Homo sapiens: one gene and its partners. The protein of the gene in region 3 interacts with the protein of the main gene of each other region in a pairwise test. Each region holds a gene or a part of one and is shown on either strand. Other genes may lie near its edges. The genes, in order: NUP62, SOX10, HSF4, TPM3, YTHDF1, ZMYND12 and PIH1D2.

Evidence for each region.
Region 1: the proteins of HSF4 (region 3) and NUP62 interact in binary tests that used the Homo sapiens proteins (3 or more experiments, as listed by UniProt).
Region 2: the proteins of HSF4 (region 3) and SOX10 interact in binary tests that used the Homo sapiens proteins (3 or more experiments, as listed by UniProt).
Region 4: the proteins of HSF4 (region 3) and TPM3 interact in binary tests that used the Homo sapiens proteins (3 or more experiments, as listed by UniProt).
Region 5: the proteins of HSF4 (region 3) and YTHDF1 interact in binary tests that used the Homo sapiens proteins (3 or more experiments, as listed by UniProt).
Region 6: the proteins of HSF4 (region 3) and ZMYND12 interact in binary tests that used the Homo sapiens proteins (3 or more experiments, as listed by UniProt).
Region 7: the proteins of HSF4 (region 3) and PIH1D2 interact in binary tests that used the Homo sapiens proteins (3 or more experiments, as listed by UniProt).

Annotation. Positions count from the first base shown.
Region 1 is NC_000019.10:49,922,566-49,926,741, forward strand, and holds part of NUP62 (nuclear pore glycoprotein p62), read right to left. Parts: intron 1-4,176. UniProt on the Homo sapiens protein: Essential component of the nuclear pore complex. The N-terminal is probably involved in nucleocytoplasmic transport.
Region 2 is NC_000022.11:37,971,327-37,974,746, forward strand, and holds the end of SOX10 (transcription factor SOX-10), read right to left. Parts: intron 2,873-3,420; coding exon 2,169-2,872; 3' UTR 986-2,168; downstream 1-985. UniProt on the Homo sapiens protein: Transcription factor that plays a central role in developing and mature glia.
Region 3 is NC_000016.10:67,162,850-67,167,544, forward strand, and holds the start of HSF4 (heat shock factor protein 4), read left to right. Parts: upstream 1-1,895; 5' UTR 1,896-1,962; coding exon 1,963-2,085; intron 2,086-2,672; coding exon 2,673-2,781; intron 2,782-2,869; coding exon 2,870-2,997; intron 2,998-3,096; coding exon 3,097-3,221; intron 3,222-3,470; coding exon 3,471-3,546; intron 3,547-3,708; coding exon 3,709-3,773; intron 3,774-4,270; coding exon 4,271-4,373; intron 4,374-4,611; coding exon of another isoform or gene 4,612-4,625; coding exon 4,626-4,695. Other genes in the region: FBXL8 (F-box/LRR-repeat protein 8), read left to right, coding at 1-971. UniProt on the Homo sapiens protein: Heat-shock transcription factor that specifically binds heat shock promoter elements (HSE).
Region 4 is NC_000001.11:154,178,173-154,182,348, reverse strand, and holds part of TPM3 (tropomyosin alpha-3 chain), read left to right. Parts: intron 1-4,144; exon of another isoform or gene 4,145-4,176. UniProt on the Homo sapiens protein: Binds to actin filaments in muscle and non-muscle cells. Plays a central role, in association with the troponin complex, in the calcium dependent regulation of vertebrate striated muscle contraction.
Region 5 is NC_000020.11:63,205,456-63,209,631, forward strand, and holds part of YTHDF1 (YTH domain-containing family protein 1), read right to left. Parts: intron 1-4,176.
Region 6 is NC_000001.11:42,438,860-42,443,035, reverse strand, and holds part of ZMYND12 (zinc finger MYND domain-containing protein 12), read left to right. Parts: intron 1-3,010; coding exon 3,011-3,180; intron 3,181-4,176. UniProt on the Homo sapiens protein: Required for sperm flagellum function and male fertility.
Region 7 is NC_000011.10:112,066,738-112,071,133, reverse strand, and holds the end of PIH1D2 (PIH1 domain-containing protein 2), read left to right. Parts: coding exon 1-96; intron 97-432; coding exon 433-698; coding exon of another isoform or gene 699-707; intron 708-3,128; coding exon 3,129-3,263; 3' UTR 3,264-3,336; downstream 3,337-4,396.

The DNA of each region.
Region 1 (4,176 bases), on a different chromosome or scaffold from region 3:
TCTGCTGTGGACAGAGAGGATGACAGCTGTGGGGAGGGGAAGTCACAGAGGGCCAGCAGCCTGAGTCCTGTCCACACTGGTGGTTTGCTGGGGTTTTCCAGGTTTTTCTGAATTACTTGCCTACCTTTAAAACTTGGATCTCACAGAAAAAAAAAAAACTGGATTTCCAGCTTCTCCCGTGAAACCAGCAGCTTTGCACCACCAGCGCTGCCAGTGTTGCTGCGGCCCCGGTGCCTTTCAGGGGCCCAGGTGCTTCTGGGAGCCACCCCTCCCTCTGGGCCTGACACAGGGCCCAAGGTGGTCAGCAGTTCACCGGTCCAGGCCTCTTCCCATGTCAACCCCCTGCCCCTCCACACTGCCCCAAGGTAGTTCTATGATTGTGCCCATTTTACTGATGAGGTGACCACAGGTCGGGGGGTACAGTATCTTGTCCCAGACCACTAAGCGGTGAGTGATGGCATCCTGGGCTCTAGGACACTGGTGTCAGTTGTTATCAGTTTGCTGTGTCCCTTTTTTTTTGCATAAGAGCTGTGACTGCTTCTACTGAAGGGACAAGGGCAGGCACAAGGGAGGGAAGGGGCTCTGGAGGACTGTGGGCCACGTGGCAGCCTGTGCTGTCTCCCAGCCCCCGCGTCATCCTCTCCCCAACTGAGCTGGCCTTGGCCTACCTGCCCTTGTTTGCCAGGACTCCCACCTTCAACCCCGGCACCCCTGGCCTGCGTGACCCAGTTACCCTCCCTGGCTCCTCTCAGGGACCTCAGTATCACATTCGCTGGCCTCTGTGCTGAGCAACTCATTAGAAAATGTATTGATGCCTACGGAAATAGCAGCACAGGGCGGGGGGTTGTGGGGAACGTTTCTGGGAATGAGGAGGGCCCTGACTTTGCCCTCGAAGCGTTCGGGGGAGCAGTCACGTAGGCAGACATCTGCACACGGCGGATCTGAAAGCAGAAGCAGGCGTGGCGAGAACAGAGAGAATCACACACAGACCCGGGCTCTGGCAGCCGCCGGCTTCACTGATGCCATCTCCACAGCGCTCCCACACCAGGCCCCAGAGCAGGAACTACTGCTCACAGGGCATTTCCCTATGCCAGGCCCCACTCTAGGTATTTCACGCACATTTACACATTTAATCCTCAAAACCACCGTCTGCAATGGACCATCTCATCCCCATTTTACGGAGGGGAAACTGAGTCATAGAAAGAGGATGCCACTTGCTGAGGGTCACAGAAGTGGTGGAGTTGGGGTGTGAACCCAGCAGGCTGGCTCTAGGGCCCATGCTCTGACCCACGCTGCGGAAGGCAGCCGAGGCTCGGCAGATGAGGGCCCTGCCTGCACTCCAGTCTACAACTGAGTGCTGGGCTCAGGACCAGAACCCCGGTCTGTCTGATGCAAAACTCGGAGCCTTTTCCATCATGCCAGGAGGCCACCGTGATTGGGAAAGCAGTGAGGAGTTGCGGCAATAGCAGGGCGATGGCACGGTGCAGGTGCAGGCAGGAATCGATAGCGTCTGGCAACTGTGAGCAGCAGCAGGCCTGAGGTGAGGGTCAGGGCTTGGAGACCTCCCAGAGACTACACCATGGGCCTCGGGGCCCTGGAAGCTGTGCAGCATGGTGGAGGCTGAGGTCCCATCTAACTGGCACTGTGATTTTCACAACCCCCCTTACCTCTCGGGACCTCAGTCTTGACTCCTGCTAACAAGCCTCTGTGATCTGAGGCCCCTTCTTGGCACCGAGCCTCAGATTCTCAGGGTCCTGCACGGGTGGCTGATCTCCCTCCCTCTCCACACCACCCCTACTCTTGCTGTGCGGGGGTTCTCCCTTATCCAAGGCTCTGCTAACCGGGAGCGGTTGCCAGGTGTGCTGGGGTCCCCAGAGAATCCCCGAACTCCCCGTCCCCGTCAAACAGCCAGGGCTGATGCAACCTGCCTGCAACCACCGCCTCACTCCCCAAGCCAGGCCCCTCCGCACCGAAAAAGAGTCCCCAGTAGCCCCACCCTTGCTTCAAGCCCCAGCTCAGGAGTTGAAGGGGAGCTCGAGGCTGGGGGAGGCCAGGACATGAGTCCTGAAGGGGCCACAGGCCTGGGTCAGGAATGTGCACACGAGGGGACTCAGGGTTCGAAGATCTGGGGAGAAGGGTCGCAGGCAACCACTGATGACCGGCTATGAACTAGAACAGGCTGGGAGGGGCTGGAGAGCTAAGGGTGCCAACTGGCACCCACTCACCCTGAGTCCAGCTGCTAAGTCTGGCTGGGCTGAAGTGGGTGGGACCCAATAGCTAGAGAGAAAAGGCGGCAAAACGGTGGGGAGGGGAAGCAGAGTCCCTGCCCAGACACCTCTGCAGCCAGCATAAACCGCACATAGCCAGCAATGCAATTCTCCTACTGACCAAGCTATTAAAAATTACCCACACCGGGCCAGGCGCGGTGGTTCACGCCTGTAATACCAGCACTTTGGGAGGCTGAGGCGGGTGGATCGCCTGAGTTCGGGAGTTCGAGACCAGCCTGACCAACATGGAGAAACCCCGTCTCTACTAAAAATACAAAATTAGCCATGTGTGGTGACACATGCCTGTAATCCTAGCTACTCGGGAGGCTGAGGCAGGAGAATCTCTTGAACCCAGGAGGCAGAGGTTGCGGTGAGCCGAGATGGCACCATTGCACTCCAGCCTGGGCAACAAGAGTGAAACTCCGTCTCAAAAAACCAAAAAAATTAAAAAACAAAACAAAACAAAAAACCCAGGCCGGGCACAGTGGCTCAGGCTTGTAATCCTAACACTTTGGGAGGGTGAGGCAGGAGGATCGTTTGAGCCCAGGAATCAGGAATTCAAGACCAGCCTGGGCAACATAGTAAGACCCTCCCCCCCATCTCTACTAAAAAAAGCCAAAAAAAAAAAAAAATAGCATCCTACCTGGCCATCCTCTCAATATCCCGCAATCCCAGTCTGAGACAAAACCAAATGGAAGCACATTCCATAAAATACCCAACCAGCATTTTTCCAAACTGTCAAGGTCATGAAGGACAAGGAAAGTCTAAAACCAGTCACAGGCCAGAGGAGGCTGCGGAGCCATGATGCCTAAATATAACGTGGCATCCTGAAGGCATCCGGAAGGAGCAGAAAGGGCATTAAGTAACAACTACCAAAATCAGCATCAAGTGTGGTCAGAATCAAGAATGGCATTTGGTCAATGGTAACATACTGATGTTGCCTTGGTTGTGACAAATGTGGCAAAGTAATGTAAAATGTTAATGGAAAAAACCAAGTGAGGGGCATACAGAAATTCTCCGTATTATCTTTGCAACTTTTCTGTTGAGTCAATCTACAATTATTCCAAAATAAAAAATTTTATTTAAAAAATAACCCCCTTGGGTACGGTGGCTCACACCTGTAATCCCAGCACTTTGGGAGGCTGAGGCAGGCAGATCACGAGGTCATGAGTTCGAGACCAGCCTGACCAACATGGTGAAACCCTGTATCTACTAAAAATATAAAAATTAGCCAGGCATGATGGTGCATGTCTGTAATCCCAGCTACTCTGGAGCCTGAAGCAGGAGAATGGCTTGAACCTGGGAGGCGGTGGTTGCAGTGAGCTGTGACGGTGCCACTGCACTCCAGCCTGGGCAACAGAGCGAGACTCTGTCTCAAAAAAAAAAAAAAAAAAAAAAGCTAGGTCTTGCTTAAGACTGGGTGTGGTGGCTCATGCCTGTAAATCCCAGCATTTTGGGAGGCCGAGGTGGGTGGATCACCTGAAGTCAGGAGTTCAAGACCAGCCTGGCCAACATGGCAAAACCCCGTCTCTACTAAAAATACAAAAATTAGCCAGGCGTGGTGGTGGGCGCCTGTAATCCCAGCTACTTGGAAGGCTGAGGCAGGAGAATTGCTTGAATCTGGGAAGTGGAGGTTGAAGTGAGCCAAGATCATGCCACTGCACTCCAGCCTGGGCGACACAGCAAGACTCTGTCTCAAAAAAACCAAACCAAACCAAACCAAACCCAGTCCCCATGTACAATCTAGAAGATCTTCGTAGGAAAAGATTCTACCGGCGGGGCGGGGGAGATAGGGCACGTCTGTGCGTCCTTACCACTGGCAGTCTGCCCAACAGTCTACCCTTAATTCCATCTGCTTTTGTTCAAAAATCTATACAGCAATGGAATGAGAACACATCCACCTTAATTA
Region 2 (3,420 bases), on a different chromosome or scaffold from region 3:
ACCCCTTCACTGGCCTGAATGACATAAAACCCTTGGTGGAGCACTTAGTAAATGGCAGCTGGATATAAGCTGTTATGAGCTGGGTATGAGGAAGAACTTCCAACCATCGGAGTTGTTCATCAGTGGAGCAAGATGGCAAAGAGTCTTTGGAGTTGTGTGCTTGTGAGGTGGAGTGGTCCTGGCCTCTGGGTGCAGTTTGGACTTCTGCTGAGGAAAGAGCTCTTAGGGAGTAGGCGCTTAAGGAGTAGACTGTCTGACATCCTTGGTCTGGACTTGGACATGGGCACCTGCTGTGAAGGCTTGGCTAGATCCTGGCGTGGGCTGCTGTGTGTGTGCTGGGGGAGGTGGCAAGTGGGGGGATGCAGCAACACAGGGCCTATCCACACATCCTGAAGGACAGGCCTCTGACTGCAGGCAGCACGGTGTCACCCTCAGCCCACCTCCTCCTCTTCAGATACCTGTCTCTTGAATTCTTTGCAAACTCCCGTCTGCTGAGTGCTGGGTGAGCAGAGGGGCTGCTTGCAAGGCAGTGAGTTCTAGCTGAGCCAGTTAAGAGTGAGTGGCCCCCCTGCAGTGTGGGGCATAGCCGCCGGGCTGGGGAGAAGTTCCCATCTGAGGCTTCAGTCCCTGAGCTCAGATGGACCCCACTGGGATGCCAGCTGTCCTAACACTCTCCATTGTTCCCACTTTCTTAGCAGGGAGAGAGACAGAAAGAGAGAGAGGAGAGTGGGAGGGGGGAGAGAGAGAGAAAGGAGAGGGGGAGGGGGGAGAGAGAGAGAGAAAGAGAGGAGAGAAGGGAGGGGGGAGAGAGAGAGGAGGGGGGAGGGGAAGGGGGTGGGGAAAGAGGGAGGGAGGTGGGAGAGAGAGACCTTTGATGATCTATCCTTTGCATTCTACTCCTAGCTACTTCCAGAAAGCATTTGAGGAAGCACCAGTACAGGGATAAGAGATGAAGAGACAGGCCAGGTCAGGCTCACCAAGCAGGTAACCGGAACCTTTAATTTTATTATGTGGAATGCTTAATGCAGAGTTAATAGGGGCTAGAGTGGCTAGGAGAGGGGACTACTGAGATAAATAACAGGAGACAGTAATGAGTTACATGTGGATTTGGGGGGCTGCAGAACAGGAAAATAGGGGCAGATATAGCTACATACTTTATTCAAATACCACTGGGAGGCAAGGGGTAAGAGGCAAGGGCAGAATGTACAGGTCAGGATTCTAGTGTCTTCAGCCTGCCGACAGCAACCTGGGTGCTGGGCCCTGTGTCTCCTGGAGCCAAGGGTTAGGGCCTGAGCAGCTGTCACTCTCTGGGAAGCCCAGGGAGTGGGGCTGACTGAGCAGGGGCCATAGAGCCTAGTAAGGGAAGAGGGAGCTGGCAAGGAGCCCAGGGAGGGAGGCTCTGTGAATTGTCTCTGATTCCTTTCCTGGAGCCCCTGCCTCGTCACCTCCTGGGATGCGTCTCAAGGTCATGGAGGTTGTAGTGGAGGAGGACTGGGGGCTGTTTCTCAGACAAAGAATGAGGTTATTGGCACAGAATTGGATCAGGGGGCCTCTGTGCCAACTCCTTCCTGCCTTCAGAAAGGGAGGGGGCATTGAAGGGATGAGAACTCCACTAAGTCCCTCGAACCCCCCACTCCCCAATGAGGCTCCTCAAAGCTACTCTCAGCCCCTGAGTGGGAGACACGGCCAGCTCCGGGCACAGTCTCTGGGTGGCCTAGCCCTTAGGCACTGTGGCATAGGTGGCATGGGCATGTCAGACCCTCACTATCTGTGAGAGAGAAAACAGGAGTCATAGGAGTGGTAAGGCCTCCGATGCCACCAACCCTGGTGCTTCCCCTCCCCGAGGAGGGTGAGCAGGCCCTTCTCAGGTCCTGGGATAGAGGGTCATTCCTGGGGGAAGGTGCAGCCCCTCATCTTTCAGTGTGGGTGCAACAGTCAACCTCCTTCTCCTCTGTCCAGCCTGTTCTCCTGGGGCTTTGCTGCTGGAGCCTGGATGGGGCGGGTGGGTCATCAGGGCAGTGAGCCAGACAGAAAGCCCCCCGACCTGTCAGCCTCTTCAGCCTCCTCAGCCTCCTCCACTGCCACCACCAGGCCTGAGGTGGGCAAGGAACAGGGCACACAGGCTGGGGGCAGGGGCTGGGCGGGGGGTGGTGGCGACAGGGCCCCCTTTAGGGCCGGGACAGTGTCGTATATACTGGCTGCTCCCAGTGTGTGGGGCTGTGGGACTGGGGCCCTGAGGGGCTGGGGTCAGAGATGGCCGTGTAGAGGGGCCGCTGCGAGGGCCCCATATAGGAGAAGGCCGAGTAGAGGCCAGAGGCCTGGCCCGAGTGGCCATAATAGGGTCCTGAGGGCTGATGGTCAGAGTAGTCAAACTGGGGGCGGGAGATGGAGGGGAAGGCTGAGCCATAGTGGGGCAGGCTGAGGGAGGTGTAGGCGATCTGTGAGGTGGATGGCTGGTCGGTGTAGTGTGGGGGCCCCTGGGGCCCCGCGGTCTCTGTCTTCACCTGGGCTTTGGCATCCACACCAGGTGGTGAGACCGTGGGCAGAGCCACGCCTGGTGGCTTGGAGATCCAGGCGGAGTGTCCACTGGCCACGGCCAGGGCACTGCCCAGCCCATAGCCGGCTGCTGAGTAGCTGCTCACATGGCCTGGGTGCCCATTGGGCGGCAGGTACTGGTCCAACTCAGCCACATCAAAGGTCTCCATGTTGGACATTACCTCGTGGCTGATCTCACCAATGTCCACGTTGCCGAAGTCGATGTGAGGCTTCCCGCCCTCCCCCATGGAGCGCCCGTCCCGCTTCGGGTCTGCCTTGCCCGACTGCAGCTCTGTCTTCGGGGTGGTTGGAGGGGTGGGTGGGCCATGGCTCTGGCCTGGGTAGAAGGGAGACAGAGAGAGAGAGCGCAAGGGGGAAGCAGGTTAGAGGCAGGTGGGCGCACGTGAACTTCCATGGTTCACCTTCAGGCAGCGGGTGCCTCTGGGAAAACCTTGTAAGTTTCACATTTTGGCAGCATGAGTCGGGTTTTTTTTTGTTTTTTTTTTTTGAGATGGAGTTTCGCTCTTGTTGCCCAGACTGGAGTGCAGTGGCGCCATCTCGGCTCACTGCAACCTCTGCCTCCTGGGTTCAAATGATTCTCCTGCCTCAGCCTCCTGAGTAGCTGGAATTACAAGCGCCCACCACAATGCCCAGCTAATTTGTGTATTTTTAGTAGAGACGGGGTTTCACCATGTTGGCCAGGGTTGTCTTGAACTCCTGACCTCAGGTGATCCACCTGCCTCGGCCTCCCAAAGTGCTGGGATTACCATCATGAGCCACTGCGCCCCACAGCATTTGTTTAAATACTGGTGTCTTAGATTGATCTCTAGTTGTTTATGAAATTCTCAAATCTTAGGGATGGGTCCTGGGGAGGCCTGCCTCATT
Region 3 (4,695 bases):
GCGAATGTGAGCTGGAAGGCATGCTGCCACCTTATCTGTCCGCCTGCCTCGACCACATTCACAACCTACGGCTGGAATTTGAGCCATCGAGGAAGCCGAGCCGCCGGGCGGCCATCGAGCTGCTGATGGTTCTGGCGGGCCGTGCCCCGGGGCTGCGAGGCCTGCGCCTGGAGTGCCGCGGAGAAAAACCGCTCTTCGACGCGGGCCGCGACGTCCTGGAGGCTGTGCACGCTGTATGCGGGGCGGCCAGCCAGCTACGCCACCTCGACCTGCGGCGCTTGTCCTTCACACTGGACGACGCGCTGGTGCTGCAGGCGGCGCGCAGCTGTCCCGAGCTCCACAGCCTTTTTCTGGACAACAGTACCCTAGTGGGCAGCGTGGGTCCCGGCTCAGTGCTCGAGCTACTGGAGGCCTGCCCGCGCCTGCGCGCTCTCGGCCTGCACCTAGCCAGTTTGTCGCACGCCATCCTCGAAGCACTGGCGGCGCCAGACCGAGCGCCTTTCGCGCTCTTGGCTCTGCGGTGCGCGTGCCCCGAAGATGCACGCGCGTCCCCGCTGCCCAACGAAGCCTGGGTCGCGTTGCGCCGCCGCCACCCTGGGCTGGCAGTGGAGCTGGAGCTGGAGCCCGCGCTGCCCGCTGAGAGCGTGACGCGCGTCCTGCAGCCAGCCGTCCCCGTGGCTGCGCTGCGCCTCAACCTCTCAGGCGACACCGTAGGCCCAGTGCGCTTCGCAGCACACCACTACGCCGCAACCCTGTGCGCGCTCGAGGTGCGCGCAGCCGCTTCGGCCGAGCTGAACGCCGCGCTGGAGGAGCTGGCGGCGCGCTGCGCGGCCCTGCGCGAGGTGCATTGTTTCTGCGTGGTGAGCCACTCGGTGCTGGACGCCTTCCGCGCGCACTGCCCGCGCCTGCGCACCTATACCCTCAAGCTCACGCGCGAGCCGCATCCCTGGAGGCCTACGCTCGTGGCGTGATTGGGCGACTTCTCTCCCCCGTCCCCGTGGACGTAAGCGCTCTGAGAGGGAACGGGGGGGGTGTCCAGGCGCGCCCCGAGTGCTAGTGCCTTCTTTTGGGATTGTTGCCCCCCGGGTCTTTACCGAGTTGGGAACTGTGATGGCATCGGGACCAGTCCTGGGCGCCCTGAGACCACTCGCTGCTCTCACCCTCTGCAGACGCCCCACCCGCTCGGTCCTGGACACACTGCCCCCCTCTCTTGCCTCCACCCCTCTGCGGACTCTGCAGCTCCGCGGCCCCGGCGCAGGGAGAGGGAGGGCACGGGCGCGGGCCGGGCCTCAAGGGTGAGTGTGAAATAAACAAATCCTGCAGTGTTTCTGCGTCCTATTAAAGGCGGGGTCGGATCTGAAAGGGAAGGACAGGGAACGCGCGGGGTACCGGAGGAGCCATCCCGGCAGAGGTTGGGTTTCCTCAAGAGCCTCTGGACGACACAGCTGCGGGGGGTCAGGGTCGGGGCACTCACACCCTTGGAATGACTACGTCCCGGGGTTCGGCGGGAGGGGGCGTGCTTCCCTGCCCCCCCTTCCTATCTGCTTGCCCTGCCTGGGGCTTCACTGTGCCTCTGGCCATTACCTTCTAGGACTTGCCCAGCCCACACCAGGTCGCGCACCGGCGATTTCTCCTGTAGAACAAAGAAGGAAATAGAGGGACCGAGAGGGGTGGGACTCGAACCCAAGTCTCCCACTCATCTCACCCCACCCCACCCCACTCCACCCCACCCCACCCCTCCACTCCACTCCACTCCACACATCCCATCCAGCCAGCCTTTTCTGCCTGCTGGTGCCTCGGCCGCTGTCCGAGCCCCGCCCCGCGGGCTTGCACGTGGCCCCCGCCTGACCCGGCGCCCCGGGGCGGAGTAGGGCGGAGCGGGCGGCAAACGCAGCACTTTCCGCGGCTTTGACGAGCCCGCAGCGGCCGGGCCCGAGCGCAGAGCCGGGCCGAGACTGCACCATGCAGGAAGCGCCAGCTGCGCTGCCCACGGAGCCAGGCCCCAGCCCCGTGCCTGCCTTCCTCGGCAAGCTATGGGCGCTGGTGGGGGACCCAGGCACAGACCACCTGATCCGCTGGAGCCCGGTGAGGGCCGGGGCCCCTCGATTCCCCCTGTGGTCCCGGGGTCCCTCCACGTCAGTGAACACCCATGCCCGCCCAACCCCCTCCTGAGACTGGGCCGTGGATCCCCGGATTTGGCCATTCAGAGAAGTTCACCTTGGAGGGGGTGTGCGAGAGGGGGGTTTCCTCTGCGGCCGAAGAAGGGTTAGGAGCCTGCCTTCTGAAGACCTAGAGTCCGAGGGACCTTCGAGGCCATTTAGTTCCCACCCTACCCCATCCGACAGATGGGAAAACAGAGGCCGGGAGATGGGAAGGGCTGGTCTAGCTCAGGGTCACATTGCGGGGCTGGGAACCCCGTCAGCCTCTCCTTTCTGAGAACTGAGTATGGAGTCAGGGTCTGGCTGGGGGTAGGGACTCACTGTGGTCGCTCCAGGCTAGGCCTCGGAGCCCGTTCTGGCCTGGCCTCGACCCATATCCCCGTAAGCGGCAGGCCTGGACCCAAGAGTGAGCATGAGTGTGTGCGCGCGCTGGAGCGCAGGACTGGCCGTGAGCGGGCACCGCTCACCCTCCTGGTCTCCGCCCGCACGGTGGGCGGGCGGCGTTCTTGGTAGAGCGGGACCAGTTTCCTCGTAAGCGACCAGAGCCGTTTCGCCAAGGAAGTGCTGCCCCAGTATTTCAAGCATAGCAACATGGCGAGCTTCGTGCGCCAACTCAACATGTGTGAGTCCCTACGGCCGGGCGGGGAGCGGGGATGGGGGACTCGGTGCCGGGGATGGGGCGACCCACGCCCCCACGCCCCACTCCCCAGACGGTTTTCGGAAGGTGGTGAGCATCGAGCAGGGCGGCCTGCTTAGGCCGGAGCGCGACCACGTCGAGTTCCAGCACCCGAGCTTCGTGCGCGGCCGCGAGCAGCTACTGGAGCGCGTGCGGCGCAAGGTGGGGGCGGCCTGCGGGAATGAGCAAAGAGGAGGAGGGGTGCTGGGACTGCCTGCCTTGCTCCTGCGACCCAGTCCCGACGGTGCCTCCCGCCTGCAGGTGCCCGCGCTGCGCGGCGACGACGGCCGCTGGCGCCCGGAGGACCTGGGTCGACTACTGGGCGAGGTGCAGGCTTTGCGGGGAGTGCAGGAGAGCACCGAGGCGCGGCTGCGGGAGCTCAGGCAGTGCGGGGGCGGGCGGGGAAAGAGGGGACAGGGGTGGGGGGTTCGGGATGAGACCATAACTGGCCGGCCAGCAGTTCTGGGCAGCCCCTTCCTCTCTCCTGCCTTGGCGCCTCCATCTAGACTTATGGGCGATCTCTGGGATGGCCAGTCAGCGGGGTGGTCTCCTGGGTCCCCAGCCTCGCCATTCTGTGGGGGGTGGTGACTGGGCGAACTCTCAGATGCCTCAGCACCCTCCCACCCCTTCCTCAGGCAGAACGAGATCTTGTGGCGGGAGGTGGTGACACTTCGGCAGAGCCACGGTCAGCAGCACCGGGTCATTGGCAAGGTGTTCCTCTCCCCAAGCCTCGCTTCTCCCTCCCACTCCTCGACACCCCATTCCACCGCCCAGTCCCCCGGCGCCCCTGTTAAGCCTTCCTCCCTCACCTGGAAGTGCGGGGGTGGGGGGGCTGTGTCCAAAGTATGAATTAAACCTTTGCTTTCTCTTCAGCTGATCCAGTGTCTCTTTGGGCCACTTCAGGCGGGGCCGAGCAATGCAGGAGGCAAGAGAAAGCTGTGAGTGAGAAAGCCAAGAAGGCCCACACCCACTTCCAAGACCCCCCAGAAGTCCCCTTGCAAGGACCCCTTCTCCTCTGGAAACTCCTTCACCGGGAATCCTCATTCCTCCCCCTGCGCTACAGGCTTCCTCACCCCATCTAGGATCCACTTCCCCCCAACTCTGCCACCTGGTATCCCCACTCCCAGATCCTCCCATTCCAGGACCTTATTCCCAAATTCCTACCCCAGCAGCCCCTTCCCCCTCCGGCAAGGCTTCCCAACAGCTGAGACCCTGGGGCTCAAACCAGGTTCCCTCCCTCCCCTCTCTACCCACAAAGGGCCCCCATCTCTAGGGGGAGCCCCTTCCACCTCCAGCATGTGACTGACACCCTAGCAACAGGCCTCAGCTCTGCTGACTTGGCTGCTGGGGCCTGAGGGAGGGAGGGAAGTGCAGGCCGAGGTGCATGGGGGCTGACCCTGCCCCACCCCTGCCTGTGCCCTGATCGACCACACAGGTCCCTGATGCTGGATGAGGGGAGCTCATGCCCAACACCTGCCAAGTTCAACACCTGCCCTCTACCTGGTGCCCTTCTGCAGGACCCCTACTTCATCCAGTCGGTAGGTTTGTCTTCTTCCCCCTTCCCAAGGGCATGGCTGGGCTTATGGAGAGCCTGTTCCTTCTCCCCATCCCCTAAAAGGAAGAGAAGATGGAAGCCAGCCTTCCCCCCAACCAGACCCAGGCCCTCCAGCATGGACTGAGCCTCCTCCCTCAAACCTTCTCCCTTAGACCTGGCCCAGGTGGGTGTTGGTGGGGTTCTGGCTCTCCCTGTGCCTACAGGCCAAGGGCTGGGCCTAGCCTTCTACTTACAGCCTCTCCCAGAGACAAATTTGGGCCTTAGCCCTCACAGGGCCAGGGGCCCCATCATCTCTGACATCCCAG
Region 4 (4,176 bases), on a different chromosome or scaffold from region 3:
CTTACGGGGTGCTCTTGCAGCTGCTACACCCACTCTCTGAATCTACGTGAAACGGCAGGGGAGGGGATAGTACTTCTCTCAACGTTAGTGCAAATGTAGGAGCCAACCAAACTTGCCTGGCCCTACCCACAATGACCTGGAAGGCAGGAACTTCTGTCAGATTCAGGCCTTTATTGCTGAAGTGTGATCAGTGCAAGCCGAACTGGTTAAGAACATTTCTTCCGAGCAGAGCTGATAAGCGAGTGTATGGCAGAGAATCAGATGGTGTGCCAGTCTCAAGGTTTCTGATTGACTTGGGCAATTTGGTGGAGACAATAATGAATTCCAGGTGACTCTAGTGGAATATTTGTTCAACTGAAAGTGGAAACATAAAATGTTGGTGGAGTGAACAGTGATTCTAGTGATTTCTTTCTTCCTTTCTTTTTTTTGAGACAGAGTCTCACTCTGTCGCTCAGGCTGGAGTGCAATGGCATGATCTCGGCTCATTGCAACCTCCGCCTCCCGGGTTCAAGTGATTCTCCTGCCTCAGCCTCCTGAGTAGCTGGGATTACAGGTGCCCGCCACCAAGTCTGGCTAATTTTTTGTATTTTTGGTAGAGACGGGGTTTCGCCATGTTGGCCAGGCTGGTCTCGAACTCCTGACCTCAGGTGATCCACCCACCTCTGCCTCCCAAAGTGCTGGGATTACAGGTGTGATCCACCGTGCCCAGCCTATTCTAGTGATTTCTTTAAACGTCTTTCTGTTTAAAAGTGGCTGATTAGTTTTAGTGTAAGCCATAAGATTTTCCAAGGTCTAGGGTGCAGTCTAATAGATGGAGCTGATACGAGTTGAGGCTTTGTTTTGGAGGATCTTGAGAGAGTAAAGTAACTGTTGCTAAAATTCAAGATCCAGTGAAAGTACTCATGTGGTTTATTCTTTGTTCTTTGTTCTTTCCCTTGGTAAGTTTTTGTTTTTGTTTTTCTTTTTGGCTGCTCCTCTGGGAAATAACTGAGAATGTTTTTGGGAGGGGGAGGGGTGGATTTCAGAAAAGGATGGTAATTGGGGGACAGCTGCCCTCCAGTTTAAATACTTAAAGATTGTTGGAATACTCACTTATTTTTATAAGTGGTCATGGAGATGCTGGGATGGGAGCTTGTTGTCTTCCTCAGACACCTTTTTCTAGGTAGATTTTTTTCCTCTGTTCAGTTTGCCAACAACTTCTTATTATCTGTGCAAGTGAGATGGACTGGCTGGGTGACTCTTTATGGCCAGTGGCACTTTCTCATCTCCTTTGTTCTGGAGACCAGATAGCTTTAAAGGGGAAGACAGAGGAACTGGCCATGTGTTGAGCTGCAGAATCTTAGGCTCAGTATTTAAATATGGACATTCTAGGAGTAGTTCTAAGGTGGGTGATTCCTGCCTCCCATCCCCCCTCTTTTTTTTTTTAGATGGAGACTTGCTCTGTAGCCCAGCCTGGAATGCAGTTGCACGATCTCTGCTCACTGCAACCTCCACCTCCCAGGCTCAAGTGATTCTCCTGCCTTAGCCTCCTGAGTGGCTGGGATTACAGGCATCCACCACCACACTCGGCGATTTTTTTTTATTATTTTATTTTTTTATTTTTAGTAGAGATGGGGTTTCACCATGTTGGCCAGGCTGGTTTCAAACTCCTGACCTCAAGTGATCTGCCTGCCTCAGCCTCCCAAAGTGCTGAGATTACAGGCATGAGCCACTGCGCCTGTCCTGGGGTGATGTTTCTTAAGCTACTTTCACTCAGAGCCTGCCAAATTTGCTTATTGAGCTGAGGTCTAGTGAGGAAGTCCTCAGAATGGGGAAGTAGAGTTATAGTTAAATATTGATGAAATCATTTCTTCTACTCCCCAGCCTGAAGAAGCTTAATCTTTTGACTTTCTGCTGCTCTGCTGAACTTTGAACCCCTACTGAGGAGGAGACACCTGTGGGAAGGGAGGGGGGTTGCTTGGGCTACCTGTTATCCTCTTAAGGCATTCTGGAATGTGGGTTTTGCAGACTCCTCCCTCCTCTGGAGCGGGAAACTGCACTCTCTGATGGTATCTCATGCTGTTAGTGGGATTGTCACTTAATTATTTTCCTGGTTACTTTGTGTGAACATCCAAGCCACCCTTGTTGGGAAGCTAGATGAGTCTAAAACTGAGACACTGGTGTTCTAGGATCCATCTTTCTTTTCTGCTCTCGGCCTGGAAATTGGTCTTTTATAATGTAGCACCTTGTCAAATTTACTTTCAGTTCTGTATTTCCTTTTTACTTCTGTCTAAATGGAAACAGATGGCAACATAATGTTTAAATGCAGTCTTTTTCCTTATCTCTTTTTTTTTGTGGTAGTGGTGATAAAAATACATGTAAAATTTACCATTTTAACCATTTATAAATGTACAGTTCACCTTATCTGTTTTTAATAACTCTCTCCTAATTGTCCCTGATATTTTTCTCTTTTTAATTTTTTTCTAGTCTAAAAAACTTAAGAGGCTGGGTGCGGTGGCTCACACCTGTAATCCCAGCCCTTTGGGAGGCCTAGGCGGGTGGATCTGAGGTCCACCTGTGGATCTGATGAAACCCCATCTCTACTAAAAATACAAAAAATTAGCTGGGCATGGTGGCGCATGCCTGTAATCCCAGCTACTTGGGAGGCTGAGGCACAAGAATTGCTTCAACCCTGGAGGCGGAGGTGGCAGTGAACCAGGATTGGATCATGCCACTGTACTCCAGCCTGGGCGAGTATCGGCACTGGGGGAGTGAGGGGTCAACTGCGGGAGTGTAAGGTCAGCACACTACCTCTGCCTCAAAAAGAAAAAAAAAAGTAATAACAAAAACCTTAAGAGTACTACCGAGGGAGTGGGCTTTGATTCTGGCCTTAATCCTAAATTCCTAGTCTCTGGAGAGGTTAGAATGCTTGACTGTTGTGTGGTTCTCTTCTATTCGTGGGCCTGGTGGACTAAGCAACCTTTCTTTGGTTGCTTTGCTTTCCTTTCTCTTTCCCCAGTACTAGAACACACACTCACAGGGGAGAGGCAGATAGCCCTTTACCCCTGCTTAGGCTCCGCCTTTGTTTACTGTGGGGCAGATAGCTCTACTCCCTTCCAACTTGCCTCCCCTTTGGTGAAGTTTAAATTCCCCAAGGACACGGTATCTCCCTGGGTAATGCATTTGTGAGCACAGTGAACTCAAATAGTCCTTTACTCACAGGGCTCAAGCCTAACTTTCTGATACTCTTTCATTTGAATTTTATCTGTGGCTTTTATCTAATAAGAGAAACCCCAGTGTGGCAGAAAGCCAGATTTAGGCTAATCCCCTTCTGTCCTTGGCCCTGTTCTGCCTGAGAGTACCATCACACTGTCAGTTTCTTGCCTGGAGGGGTTGACATATTTGGGAAATCTCTTTGGAGTGGAGGATAGCCGAAGGTGTTGTCAGCCATCTGGTAATGTGACTGAGTTGCTGGGGCATTCTACTCTTTCCCCAATCCCTCACCCAGGATCTTTGCTTCCTGGGCAGTGGAGAATCCTATTATTACTTGAAGGGAAGAACCACAGAGTACTGTATATCCTCCACACTGGGCAGAGATAGGTCAGCTGAAACACCAAAACCGCATCTGGATGGGCATGCTAAAACCTAAGATGATTAGGAAAGTGCAGAGCTTAACGTTTCCCAGGGCCACAGGTAGCCTGGTCTGCAAAAAGTAGGCCTGTTCAATCTCTTGGTACCCATTGGTATTATTTGACCTGAAAGGGACAGGCACTGTGCATAGACTCATGAGGGAAAAGTCAGCTTGTCTTCCTTGTTCCTTTAAACAAAGTATCAGATCTTGATTCTGCAGGCTTTTGTTTCATTGTAAAGAGAACTGATCCTCTGTGCTAGGAGAAAAGAGAAAGGCAAGGTCCCATTCCCTACCACTCCACCCTGGAGGGGGTCTCTGAAGCTTTTTCTAGGACTCCCATCTCAGGTTCTGCTTTTGATACAGGCTTGTTCATGTGTGCATGCTCTTAGGAGGGCACCAAGATGTGTTTTCCCCCTCTCCCTTTTCAGCCTTGCTAAGAATTCTATTGTAAATGCTGATTTGTGGGAGAAACTGCCTGAGCCAGCTTGCTGTCATGGCAACTGTACACCCCCGCCCCATAGCCTGTTATCTTCTACTCCAGTTTGGGTAACTACTGGTGAGCTGCA
Region 5 (4,176 bases), on a different chromosome or scaffold from region 3:
TTTCTAATTTTCTTCCTGTTGACTTCTCCACTTGTGAGCAGACAATTCCAGAACCCCCCCCTTTTTTTTTTGGGACGAAGTCTCACTTTGTCGCCCAGGCTGCAGTGCAGTGGCACGATCTCAGCTCACTGCAACCTCCGCCTCCCAGGTTCAAGCGATTCTCATGCCTCAGCCTCCCAAGTAGCTGGGATTACAGACACCCACCACCACACCCGGTTAATTTTTGTATTTTTAGTAGAGACAGGATTTCATCATCTTTGCCAGGCTGGTCTCGAACTCCCAACCTCAGGTGATCCACCCGCCTCGGCCTCCCAAAGTGCTGGAATTACAGGCATGAGCCACAGCGCCTGGCCCCAGAATCATCTTTTAAAATGCACTAACTGCTGTTTCCCCGTAATATAAATTTGAGATTCTGGGGGTATAAGAAGACAAGTGGGATGCTATCAGTGTTCCACAAACATGAGATTAATCTGAGCTTATTCTCCCTCAAAACAGTTTCCATGATGCTGGCTCCTTTGCTGCAGCCTTTCCCTCGGGTGCTGCCCTGGCCAACAGGCCCAGACTGGGGGGGTGAGCGAATCAGGGGGGCGGTCTGTGCACAGGACTTGCTCCTCGAGTCACTGGCCGCAGGTGCCTTCAAGGACGGCAGGCAAGGGGACAGTCCCCCCCACAGGGAAGCCAGCCCTCCTCCTCCCATTAGCTGGACACGTGCTCCTCAGCAGCGCTGCAATCACAACACATCTTCCTTCCACGCAAAAAGAGCAGATGGGAAAAAAAGACCTCGATGGCTGTGTGGTATTCTAATCCACTTGGCCCCAACACCAACCAGAGGAGTCAGGCCACAGAAACAGATGCCCAGGGACACTTCTGACTTACACCTAAAGCCTTAACTAAGACAGGACATCACTTACCACATGAAAAAATCCACATTACATGAGGCATGTAACATTCCTGAAAATCCGTTTTAAGTATTAAATGGACACACCTAGCACACACGCTGCACAGACAGAGAGCCCATAAATGACCCATCCAGCTTCCCTCTACCCAAGGTGCAGGGCCTGCAGTTCTAGCCAGTACTCTGCAAATCCTTCAGCTCCAGATCACCACCATTCACATCCTGAGCCACAGAAGACGGTGACGCTAATCAGCTCTGCTGGCAGCCCTAAACCCTCCTGATACTTTCTGTGCTCACCGGGTTCCACGGCCACACAGGCAGGCTGGATACAGTGACCTGGGGTTCTGTGGGCCGGATTTCCATTTTTACCTCAATCTCACTGACAGCCCATTTCCTATTACATCTGCCATCTTTCCTCCAAAACTCTGAAGGTAAAGAAGCAGGTTAATTTGTAAAGCTATGTGAAGTCAGTCATTCTGTACATAAGAAAACCTGGAGATGCTGTCCTCTGCCTTCTTTATGAGCCACATGTCAGGCTGCTGCCCCACACTCCTTCCCTGGTGAGGGAAGCTGTCCCATTCACAGTCCTGGTCACAGTGCGTGGGAGACAACTGGAAACGCACAGTTCGGGCTGCCTGGAAAACACATGCAGCCTCCTTTCAGGGCCTTTGATCTCCCTTTGTCTCCCGCACAGCCAGGCACAGGTTCAGCGCTCACTCGCTGCCAAGTGCTGGAGGCGAGCTGTGCTGCTCCCTCAACATTCCTTAGTGCCACGGCTCCATGGGCACTGAGTTATGAGTGTGAAAGTTTACTTCTCAGGGATACAGCTGCATTAACCCCGGGCACGGTGACTCATGCCTGTAATCCCAGCACTTTGGGAGGCTGAGGTGGACGGATCACAAGGTCAGGAGATCAAGACCATCCTGGCTAACACTGTAAAACCCCCCTCTCTACTAAAAACACAAAAAATTAGCCGGGCGTGGTGGTGGGTGCCTGTAGTCCCAGCTACTCAGGAGGCTGAGGCAGGAGAATGGCGTGAACCCGGGAGGCGGAGCTTGCAGTGAGCCGAGATCGAGCCACTGCACTCCAGCCTGGGTGACAGAGCAAGACTCTGTCCCCCCCACCCCCCTCCAAAAAAAAGAACAAATTCAAAGCTTGTTCTTAACACATTACTACCTCTGAGCAAGCATATTTTGGTCCTCGTAAATGAGTGGCATAAACAGATCTTTTAAGGACAATACAAGCAAAACCATGATCCTGTTACTCTGCAGCCGCCTCCACAGAAGACTGCTGAACACTTCCACATGCTAGGCGCCTCACTGCAGCCCCTGCGGAGAACTGACGACCTCATCGAAGAAAGGCTAACACATTTTTAGCCGGGCACAGTGGCTCTGGCCTGTAATCCCAGCACTTTGGGAGGCCGAGGCAGGTGAATCACAAGGTCAGGAGTTCGAGACTAGTCTGATCAATATGGTTAAACCCCGTCTCTACTAAACCGGGTATGGTGGCAGGCACCTGTAGTCCCAGCTACTCCGGAGCCTGAGGCAGGAGAATCGCTTGAACCTGGGAGGTGAAGGCTGCCATGAGCCAAGATCACGCCACTGCACTCCAGCCTGGGTGACAGAGTGAGACTCCGTCTCAAAAAAAAAAAAACAAAAACAAACAAAAAAGAACTAAGAGCAGTTTTACATATTTACTCAAATTTAACCACATTAAAAAAAAGAAACTTCCATCCGAATGACCAGAACCATTTAAGTTGAAGTTCAATGGTTAAGTTTACTTCCTATATCCATTTTTCTGAGATGGAGTTGGAATGACCAAAAGGAGAGACTAGAGGGAGAAGCAGAAAGGATCCCTTCAGAAGCCCAAGAGGAACAGAGAGAAGCATTTGCTTAATAAAAACAAACAAACAAAACAAAATAATTAATTATGTAAAATGGAAAAGTATTAAGGGTACTGCTGAAAAGTGAGGGAGTGATATGGCTCCTGGGAAGCAGCTCTGACCCAGGACTGGGAACAGGCCTACCAGGATGACCTGTTCTTCAGGAGAAGCCTTAGGGAGCACAGAGAAAATGTTAGAGGAAAATAACCGAAAAACCCTAATTTACTTACTTGGCTGCTCACTTTTCAGATCTGTTTTCAGGACTGGTCCCTCTGAGGCTGCAATTTCAGCCCCTCAGCTGGTGGCATCAATATGCAGAGACAGCAGTTTCTGACAGAATTTCTGCATTTGTTTCAGCAACTTGCCAGTAAGAAGCACGTTAAGATCCCACTATGTCCTTCCAGCTGCGTTTCTGGGAAGCCGTTGTGATGGCAAATGCCTACTTAGCAGGCGCTGCCACTGGGTATTTTAAGGAAGCCCATATTTTTAGATGCAGCCACAAGAAACTGACACTCCCCTGCTGGCCCTCAGGTCACCCCGGGCCCACCAGAGCTGCCCAGGCACAGCAGGAAGCCCTGTGCCAAGCATCTCCAGGCTGTTCTCAAAGAAGTCCTAGATGCTCTGATGAGGCATTGTGTTCAGTGAAAAAAAACCACCCAAAACCTGATGAGCAATTTCGTCACTGTGTGATCAGTGTCCTCACACAAACAGAGACGTGTGAGCATGGAGGCAGTATCCTTACCACACACTGAGGCCGTAACCTGTACAGTGTGTAACTGTACTGAATAATGGAAGTAACTGTACATCAATGATAAGTATCTGTGTGTCTAAACATTATCTAAACACAGAAAAGGTACAGTAAAAATACGGTATAAGAAATCAAGAACGGGACACCTGTACAGAGCACTTACGGTGAATGGAGCAGGTAGGCCTGAGTTGCACTGGGTGAGTCAGGGAGAGAATGTGAAGGCCTGGGCCCTCACTGGACACCACTGTCACCTTTAGAAACACCGTCCACTTAACACTACACTCAATTTTTAAATTTTCCTTTCTTCAATAATAAACCCTAGCCTACTATGGCTTTTTTACTTTACAAACTACTTTTTTAAAAGCTTTAAGGTTTTTGACTCTTTTGTAAACACAAATATATCATATAGCTGTACAAAAATTTTTTTTGTTATATCCTTATTCCATAAGCTTTTTTCTATTAAATTTTTTTTAACTTTTTGAACTTTTTTGTTATAAATGAAGACACGGCCAGGCACAGTGGCTCATGCCTATAATCCCAGCCCTCTGGGAGGCCGAGGCAGGAGGACTGCTTCAGCCCAGGATTTCGAGAACAGCCCAGGCAACACAGTGAGACCCCATCTCTACAAAAAATCAAAAATAAGGCAGGAAG
Region 6 (4,176 bases), on a different chromosome or scaffold from region 3:
ATTTTTTTCCCATCTAAACAATCTTAGTTAAGAGTCATTTGCTTCTTCAAATGTGAGAGGACTTCAGCCTAAACCTCATATTTTATAGACAAAGCCTGGAGGGAAGATGTGACTTGCCATGTTCACATGAGCCAGGATCAGGGACTAGGCCTCGTGCTCCTAATCTAGTAGTTTCCCATTTTAGTTTGCACTTTGACCTTCCATCAGGCAAAGTTACTTCCTTCTTCTTGTAGACTGCTTCCTCTTCATCTCTTTTCCTTTAATTCAGTGATGTAGGGTTACAACTAGAATAAAAGCATGCTTACATATGAACTAGGTCTGACAGGAAGGACACAGAGGAGCAGAGGGTTGGCTTATGAGGGGTTCGTGTCCTTACCTCTTAACCCTTTGTTGATGCCATTTCTGCTGCAGCACCTATCACACCAATGCTTCGCCCCCAGAGCACGCCTCCTACCCTGCAGCACACTGACGTAGTGGCTTTCTATTCTGTTCTGACAAATTTCCCCAGGAGTCAAGCAGGTAGGCAGGCCTCTGTATATATAAAGATGATATGTAATACACAAAAAGCTTTAAGTGTCAAGAGTATCTAAATATTAGCAATAAATGTGGCTTTCCTTTCTCTTACCTTCCACATTACTTAGTAACCGTGTGTTGTCCATTTTACTTCCTGTCTCTTTTTGATCTCCTCCTCTTTAGTTCACTGTCTTGTTTCAGGCTCTTAAGCGTGCTTGTCCGAACTATTTCAGACATCTTCCAGTGAATCTTCTACCTTTATTCCTCCCCTCTGGTCCCTCCTCCACATTGGTTCCAGAGGATCTTTCTAAATTTAAATCTGATTCTCTCGCCCTTTTTGAAAATCCTCTAGTTTTTATCCACATGCATCAAGTTCCTTGGTATAACTCACTAAGCCCTCCATGACCTGCCCCCTGCCTACCACCATAGCCTCATTTTCTGCCATTCTGTCTTTCACAATTTGTGCTCCAGCATCACAGGCCGATACAGTCCCTACACCCTCCATATTTGTAGGTTCTGCATCTGCCCATTCAAGCAACCATGGGTCAAAAATATTTTTAAAAATAATACAATGATTAAAAATGATACAAATAAAAACAATACGGCCGGGTGCGGTGGCTCACGCCTGTAATCCCAGCACTTTGGGAGGCCGAGGCGGGCGGATCACAAGGTCAGGAGATCGAGACCATCCCGGCTAAAACGGTGAAACCCCGTCTCTACTAAAAATACAAAAAATTAGCCGGGCGTAGTGGCGGGCGCCTGTAGTCCCAGCTACTTGGGAGGCTGAGGCAGGAGAATGGCGTGAACCTGGGAGGCGGAGCTTGCAGTGAGCCGAGATCCCGCCACTGCACTCCAGCCTGGGCGACAGAGCAAGACTCCGTCTCAAAAAAACAAAACAAAACAAAACAATACATGATGTTACTTGTGGGCTTATAAACAAAAAAAGAAAAAATGTAAACAAAAAAGACAAAAATGATATAGTAGAACAACTATTTACATAGCATTTACTTTGTATTAGGTATTATAAGTAATTTAGAGATGATTTAAAGCATAGGGAATGATGTGCATAGGTTATATGCAAATACTACACTACTTTATATTAGAGCCTTGAGCATCCTTATATTTAGGTATCTGATGGGGGTTCTGGAACCAGTTCCCTGCAGCTGTGACTCTATATAGTTCTATGAACATAACATATTATTTCATATTTCTATGACATTGCACATGCTGTTACTTCTGCCTGGGATGCTCTCCCTGCCTTATCTACCTGGAAAACTTCTATTCATCCTCAAAACCCAGCTCAGACTCTGCTTCAGTGTCCCTCTCCATCTCATCTATAGAATTAAACATTTCCTATCCTCTGACACTTCCAAAGCTTGTGTTGCTATTGCAATTATACTATATTGTAAATATATTTGTTTTCATGTTGCACTTTGATTCCCCATCACCCAACACAAGGCCTGGCACAGAAAGGGTATTAAATATGCATATATATATTTCACAATTGAGATATAATTCACATATCATAAAATTTACCCTTTTAAAGAACAATTAAGGCCAGACACAGTGTCTCACGCCTGTATTCCCAGCACTTTGGGAGGTCGAGGTGGGTGGATCACCTGATGTCAGGGGTTTGAGACCAGCCTGGCAAACATGGTGAAACCCTGTCTCTACTAAAAATACAAAATTAGTGGGGCGTGGTGGTGCATGCTTGCAGTCCCAGCTACTTGGAAGGCTGAGGCATGAGAATCACTTGAACCTGAAGGCAGAGGTTGTAGTGAGCCGAGATCGCGCCACTACACTCCAGTCTGGGCAACAAAGTGAGACTCCCTCAAAAAAACAACAACAACAACAAAAAAAGGACAATCCAGTGGTTGGTTTTAGCACATTCTGAAGGTTGTGCAACAATCACCATGATCTATTTCCACAACATTTTCATCACCCCTAAAAGAAAGCCTGTAATTGTCAGCAGTTACTCCCTCTTAGTGCCTCCCTTGCATTGGACCCCCTGTTAGTGCCTCCCTTGCATTGGACTCCCCCTGTCGCCTGGCCACCACTAGTCTACTTTCCGTCTCTATGGATTTGCCTATTCTGGACATTTCATATAAATGGAATCATACAATATGTGGCCTTTGGTGTCTGGTTTCTTTCACTTAGTATAGTGTTTTCAAAGTTCATCCACATTATAGCAGGTAGCACTACTTCATTCCTTCTTATGACTGAGTAATATTCCACTCATGGAGATGGAGATGGAGATGGAGATGGAGATGCCTCCTTTTGTTCATCCACTCATCAGCTGATGGACATTTACATTGTTTCTGTTTTTTTTTTTTTTACTCTTCCAAATAGGCTGCTGTGAACATTCCTGTATGAGTTTTTCTGTGTCAATAAATACTTGAGTCAATGAATACATGAGTGAATGGGTAATGACTCATATTTCCTCATGTGTTCTTTGGCCTGGATATGAATTATAACCTTCTTTTCTGCTTTTGGGCAGGTCTGGGCCGAATCGTTCAGGCTGAAGAATATCTATTCCAAGCCCAGTGGACAGTCCTCAAATCAACTGACTGTAGTAATGCCACCCACTCTTTACTGCATCGGAATCTGGGACTTCTCTATATAGCTAAGAAAAACTATGAAGAGGCCCGTTATCATCTGGCCAATGATGTAAACAAGCTAAGTTATAACACCTGTATATTTCCAAAATCTAAATTATAACACCTGTATATTTCCAAAATCTGTTTAATTTTTTTAAAACTGTGCATTTCTCTAAAACTTTCTGTTTACAACTGATTATTTGGTGGGATGTTAGCCATAACACAATTCTACCGACCCGAGTTCAAGCATTTCTACTTCATAGCTATTCAACCTTGGCCAGGTCACATATTCCTGAAGTTTCAGTTGCCCTGAAGAGTAAAGGGAGGCAAAACAGCATACTCGTTAAGAGAAGGGCTTTGCTGGCCGGGCATGGTGGCTCATGCCTGTAATCCCAGCACTTTGGGAGGCCAAGGTGGGTGGATCACGAGGTCAGGAGATTGAGACCGTCCTGGCCAACATGGTGAAACCCCGTCCCTACTAAAATACAAAAAATTAGCCAGGCGTGGTGGTGCATGCCTGTAGTCCGAGATACTCGGAAGGCTGAGGCAGGGGAATCACCTGAACCCGGGAGGTGGAGGTTGCAGTGAGCCGAGATCGCGCCACTGCACTCCAGCCTGGCGACAGAGCAAGACTTCGTCTCAAAAAAAAAAAAAGAGAGAGAGAGAAGGGCTTTGCTTCTAGTCACAGATCTGTTTCACTAGCCACATCGTCTTGGAAAATTTGTTTAACCTCTTTCATCACCTGCAAGACAGGAATAATAAAATAGTCTCTGTCTCACTGGGTCATTGCGAAGATTAATAATAGGACAATAAATGTATAGTACCTTGGCTATTATTTTAAAAAATAACAGTAATATCTCTACTTCAGAGTGTTGGTTATTAAATTTAAAAGAGCTAGATGTATAAGAAAGCACTTATCGATGATAAAACTCTGTACAAAGTTAGATGGGATGTTGAGGATGATAACTGAATTGTTCTTTCAAAATTTAAGGGGTTTCTATTAGGATTTCAGTACTGGAAAATATTACCAGAGAAAAGAGTTCCTGGGCGTGAAATCTGAGTTAGC
Region 7 (4,396 bases), on a different chromosome or scaffold from region 3:
CCAAATTTAGAATAAAAGGAAGCATTCAAAGAATGAAACAAAATCTGATGGGAATCCAAACTGATTCCATAGATTTAAGAGAAAAAATGAGAAGGGGTAAGTTGATGATTGTAAATGGAAAATTAAACTGCTTTAAGATGTTTTTGGATCCTGTATACATTTTGCAAACTAGAAATCTCTATTTTAAAAGGTGAAAAACTTAAGATAGAAAAATGCAAATATTAAATATTAGAAATATCATATCCTTGATTTTTAAATCCTGAAAAATTTTCAATCAAATTCTTTGGTTTAAGATTCTTTTGGCTTGATTCCCAAACTAATTTAACTGCAGCTTTATCTACCATCTCTACTAACACCACATATATTATAGCTCATAGTATTTTATGTTGTAGATTTATTTTTTATCTCCCCTCCACCCTTTTTTTCATAAAGAACTAACTCTTGGACAGATACGAAGCAGTACTATGAGCAATCCAGATCACTTTCCTCAACTGTTACTGCCAAAAGACCAAGTTTCAGGCAAAGCAGTGTGTCTGATAGAAGAGATTTCCAGTACTGAAATCCAGGTGGAGATGAAGATGCCAGCCTATGAACTAAAAATTGTGCATGATCACAGTGAGAAACCTCTGAAAATTGAGTTGAAAGTTGAATTACCTGGTATTAATTCTGTCTCTCTCTGTGACCTTAGTGTTTCTGAGGTAAGTTGAATAGATAACACTGTAAATTTGTATTGGCCAGCATTCACTAACATATATTATGCCACAGTAACAAACTACATAATTTCAGGGGCTTACAATGATTTGCTCAGGTTACCCGGTGAAGGAGCAATTCCCTTCTGAGATGTGCCATTCACATCTCAGCAAAGGGAAAATAGAATGATCAAACCATGCAGTGGATCGTAATACTTCTACTCAGACATGACACTTCATGATATCACTTCTACTCACGCTCCACTGGCCAAAGTAAGTCACAAGGCCAGTTCTACATCAGTAGGACTGAGAAGTGTATTCTCACAGTCACAGGAAGTCATATGGCAGGGTAAACGTACTATCCTCTTACAGAAGAGCAAATAGTTAGAGTCAGTCCTACAGTCTACCAGTCTACACTCTTGGTTGCAAATATTTGCTTCTTTCTGGAAGGAAAACACCTCCAATCCCAGTATCAGACTCCAAAGGACAGAATTTTGCTTTCTCTTCCTCTTGAACCATGGACTAAGACATGTAAAAAAAGTTATGTACTCCCTCAGTCCCATCTGTCATGCAATGTGGAATGGGGAGAAGATAACCGTAATTAACCATCTCAATTCAGAAATGGGAAAAATAAGAGGCACACTGCAGTTACTGGTGCACAGCAATTCTGAAATCCTAGTAGGCAGACATTGTGAGGGCTCCTTTTCTGGAGGTAGAGGATGTTCTTACTTAGGTTCCTTGAGAAAGTTCTGTAATTACCTAGCTCCCCAGTTCCATTTTTTTCCACGACCTTTAGCTTCAGTCTTCAGGAAGATGTTTTCTTTTTTTTTCCCTTTCCCACTATCCACCTTGGCCACATCTGAAGAGTATCGGAGAATGTGCCATTCTTATATGCTAAGTAGCCTCTTCAGCCTGGTTCCTGCTCATGGAATCTTGGGGCTCAAAGGATTGTTTTAAATTTTGAAGGCAGTTTCTTTTAGTCCAGGCTGGTAGCATTTTGATTCCAGTCAGTGATACCCATAATTCCTTTTTAGACATTGCCCATATTTCAAGACTTACCTGTCTCTTTAGACTTAATTGCTGTCATTTTAGCCAAATGTAAGGATTTACTGAAGTCCACCTTAGTACAGTCAGAGGTTTTGGCTGGGTACGGTGACTCATGCCTGTAATCCTAGGATTTTGGGAGGCCGAAGGGGGGTGGATTGCCTGAGCTCAGGGGTTCGAGACCAGCCTGGGCAACATGGTGAAACCCTATCTCTACTAAAATACAAAAAAAACATCAGCCGGGCGTGGTGGTGGGCACCTGTAGTCCCAGCTATTCAGGAGGCTGAGGCAGGAGAACTGCTTGAACCCGGGAGGCGGAAGTTGCAGTGAGCCAAGATCGAGCCACTGCACTCCAGCCTGGGCAACAGAGCGAGACTCTGTCTCCCCTCAAAAAAAAAAAAACAAAAAAAAAAAAAAACAAAAAAAATTCAGAGGTTTTAACAAAGAGCATAAAGATTTAATCTTTGCCTCTATATTGCCTTAATCAGCTTGGTTGATAAAAGTAATTTCTCAATTTTATCCCTTACTTGCTGAAAATAAAAATTAGTTCCACTTTTCAGTCATTGAGTCTTGGAATCTTGGGGCTCTATAAAGTCCTTTTTATTTATTTATTTATTTTGAGACAGTCTCACTCTATTGCCCAGGCTGGAGTGCAGTGGCACCATCTCAGCTTACTGCAACCTCTGCCTCCCAGGTTAAAGCGATTCTCCTGCCTCAGCCTCCTGAGTAGCTGGGATTACAGGCATGTGCCACCAAGCCTGGCTAATTTTTGTATTTTTAGTAGAGACGGGGTTTTGCCATGTTGCCCATGTTGGTCTCGAACTCCTGGCCTCAAGTGATCCACCTGCCCTCAGCCTCCCAAAGTGCTGGGATTACAGGTGTGAGCCACCGCACTCAGCCAATTCCCTTTTAATTTGACTTGCAAAATGGTCCATTCTAAGCTCATCTTTCTTGTAATATCCTGTTAAATGTAGTGAACAGAACCAACACATTACCATCTATTTTCCCACTTCTTCACCTAAAGCCACAAATCAACTAGGCACAGAGTATTTATCATCCAAATTACTGTGATAGTTTCACTAAAGGCTTCATCATTATGAAACATGGATCACTACCTTTCCAGGCTCCAATAAGTTTCCTTGCTGTTTGCTGGTCAGCCACATAATTTAGGATGGCAACACTCTACTGTGGTACTGTATCAGTTAACGTGTGATGTAGTGAGCAGCAGTAACCACCTTAAAATCTAAGGGATTTACAACAGTAATTTTTTGCTCATTCCAAGTCACATGGCAACAAATGGGATCTTTTTATGGCAAAGGAGTGAATAACTGGGAACAATAAGTTAGTATCCCAAATTTTAAGCAGGAAATAAATCTCTTGGTTTATTATTCTTAGGATGATTTATTGATTGAAGTATCTGAGAAGTACAGATTACATCTGAATCTTCCAAAACTTATTGATACTGAAATGACCACAGCAAAATTTATCAAAGAAAAATCCACGCTAATCATCACAATGCCTTTGGTGTGAAAGAAGAGCATCATATGTTTTGGGTTTTCAGTGCTAAAGTCATGTGAATTAAAGGACCTTCATTTTGGCTAAAGAGGTAGTAGTTTATCTTAAACACCAATTCCATTATTTTCTAAGTTCATTTTGACTGAGATTTTCTCTTCACCTGTTATGTCAAATATATATATATATATATATATATATATTTTTTTTTTTTTTTTTTTTTTTTGAGACGGAGTTTCGCTCTTGTTGCCCAGGCTGGAGTGCAGTGGCACGATCTCAGCTCACTGCAACCTCCGCCTCATGGGCTCAAGCGATTCTGCCTCAGCCTCCCGAGTAGCTGGGATTACAGGCATGCACCACCACGCCCAGCTATTTTTTTGTATTTTTAGTAGAGACGGGGTTTCACCATGTTGACTAGGCTGGTCTTGGACTCCTGACCTCAGGTGATCCACCTGCCTCGGCCTCCCAAAGTGCTGGGATTACAGGCATGAGACACCATGCCTGGCCATGTCTTATATTTTTTAACTCACTTCTTCTCAAATAAACATCAACCAGAATTAAAAACTATTGCTATGACACACTTGTTTTAAAAATATCTTAAGTAACTTATAATTTGGGAAAATTCTAATTGTTTCCAAGTAACAAGTGAGAACTCTTGGTTTACTGCTTGAAAAAGTCTCTAGTAAATTTTTCTATCAGGAAGAAATTCCAGACTGTGCAAGAAGTTTTTTATTATCAGGATGGGCCATATCAGTGAGTCTCCTCCAACAATAAAAATACAGGGTCAAATATAATATTCAAGCCTATTTAACCTCTGTACTTCACTGAGACTGAGTCTCGCTGTGTTGCCCAGGCTGGAGTGCAGTGGCACAATCTCGGCTCACTGCAACCTTCGCCTCCCAGGTTCAAGCGATCCTCCCGTCTCATCCTCCTTAGTAGCTGGGATCACAGGCATGTGCCACCACGCCTGGCTAGTTTTTGCATTTTTAGTAGAGAAAGGGTTTCACCATGTTGGCCAGGCTGGTCTTGAACTCCTGACCTCAAGTGATCCATCTGCCTCAGCCTCGCAAAGTGCTGGGATTACAGACGTGAGCCATGGCACTCAGCCCCTAACCTCTGTACTTCAGTTAAACAACTCTGCCAGGAGACCC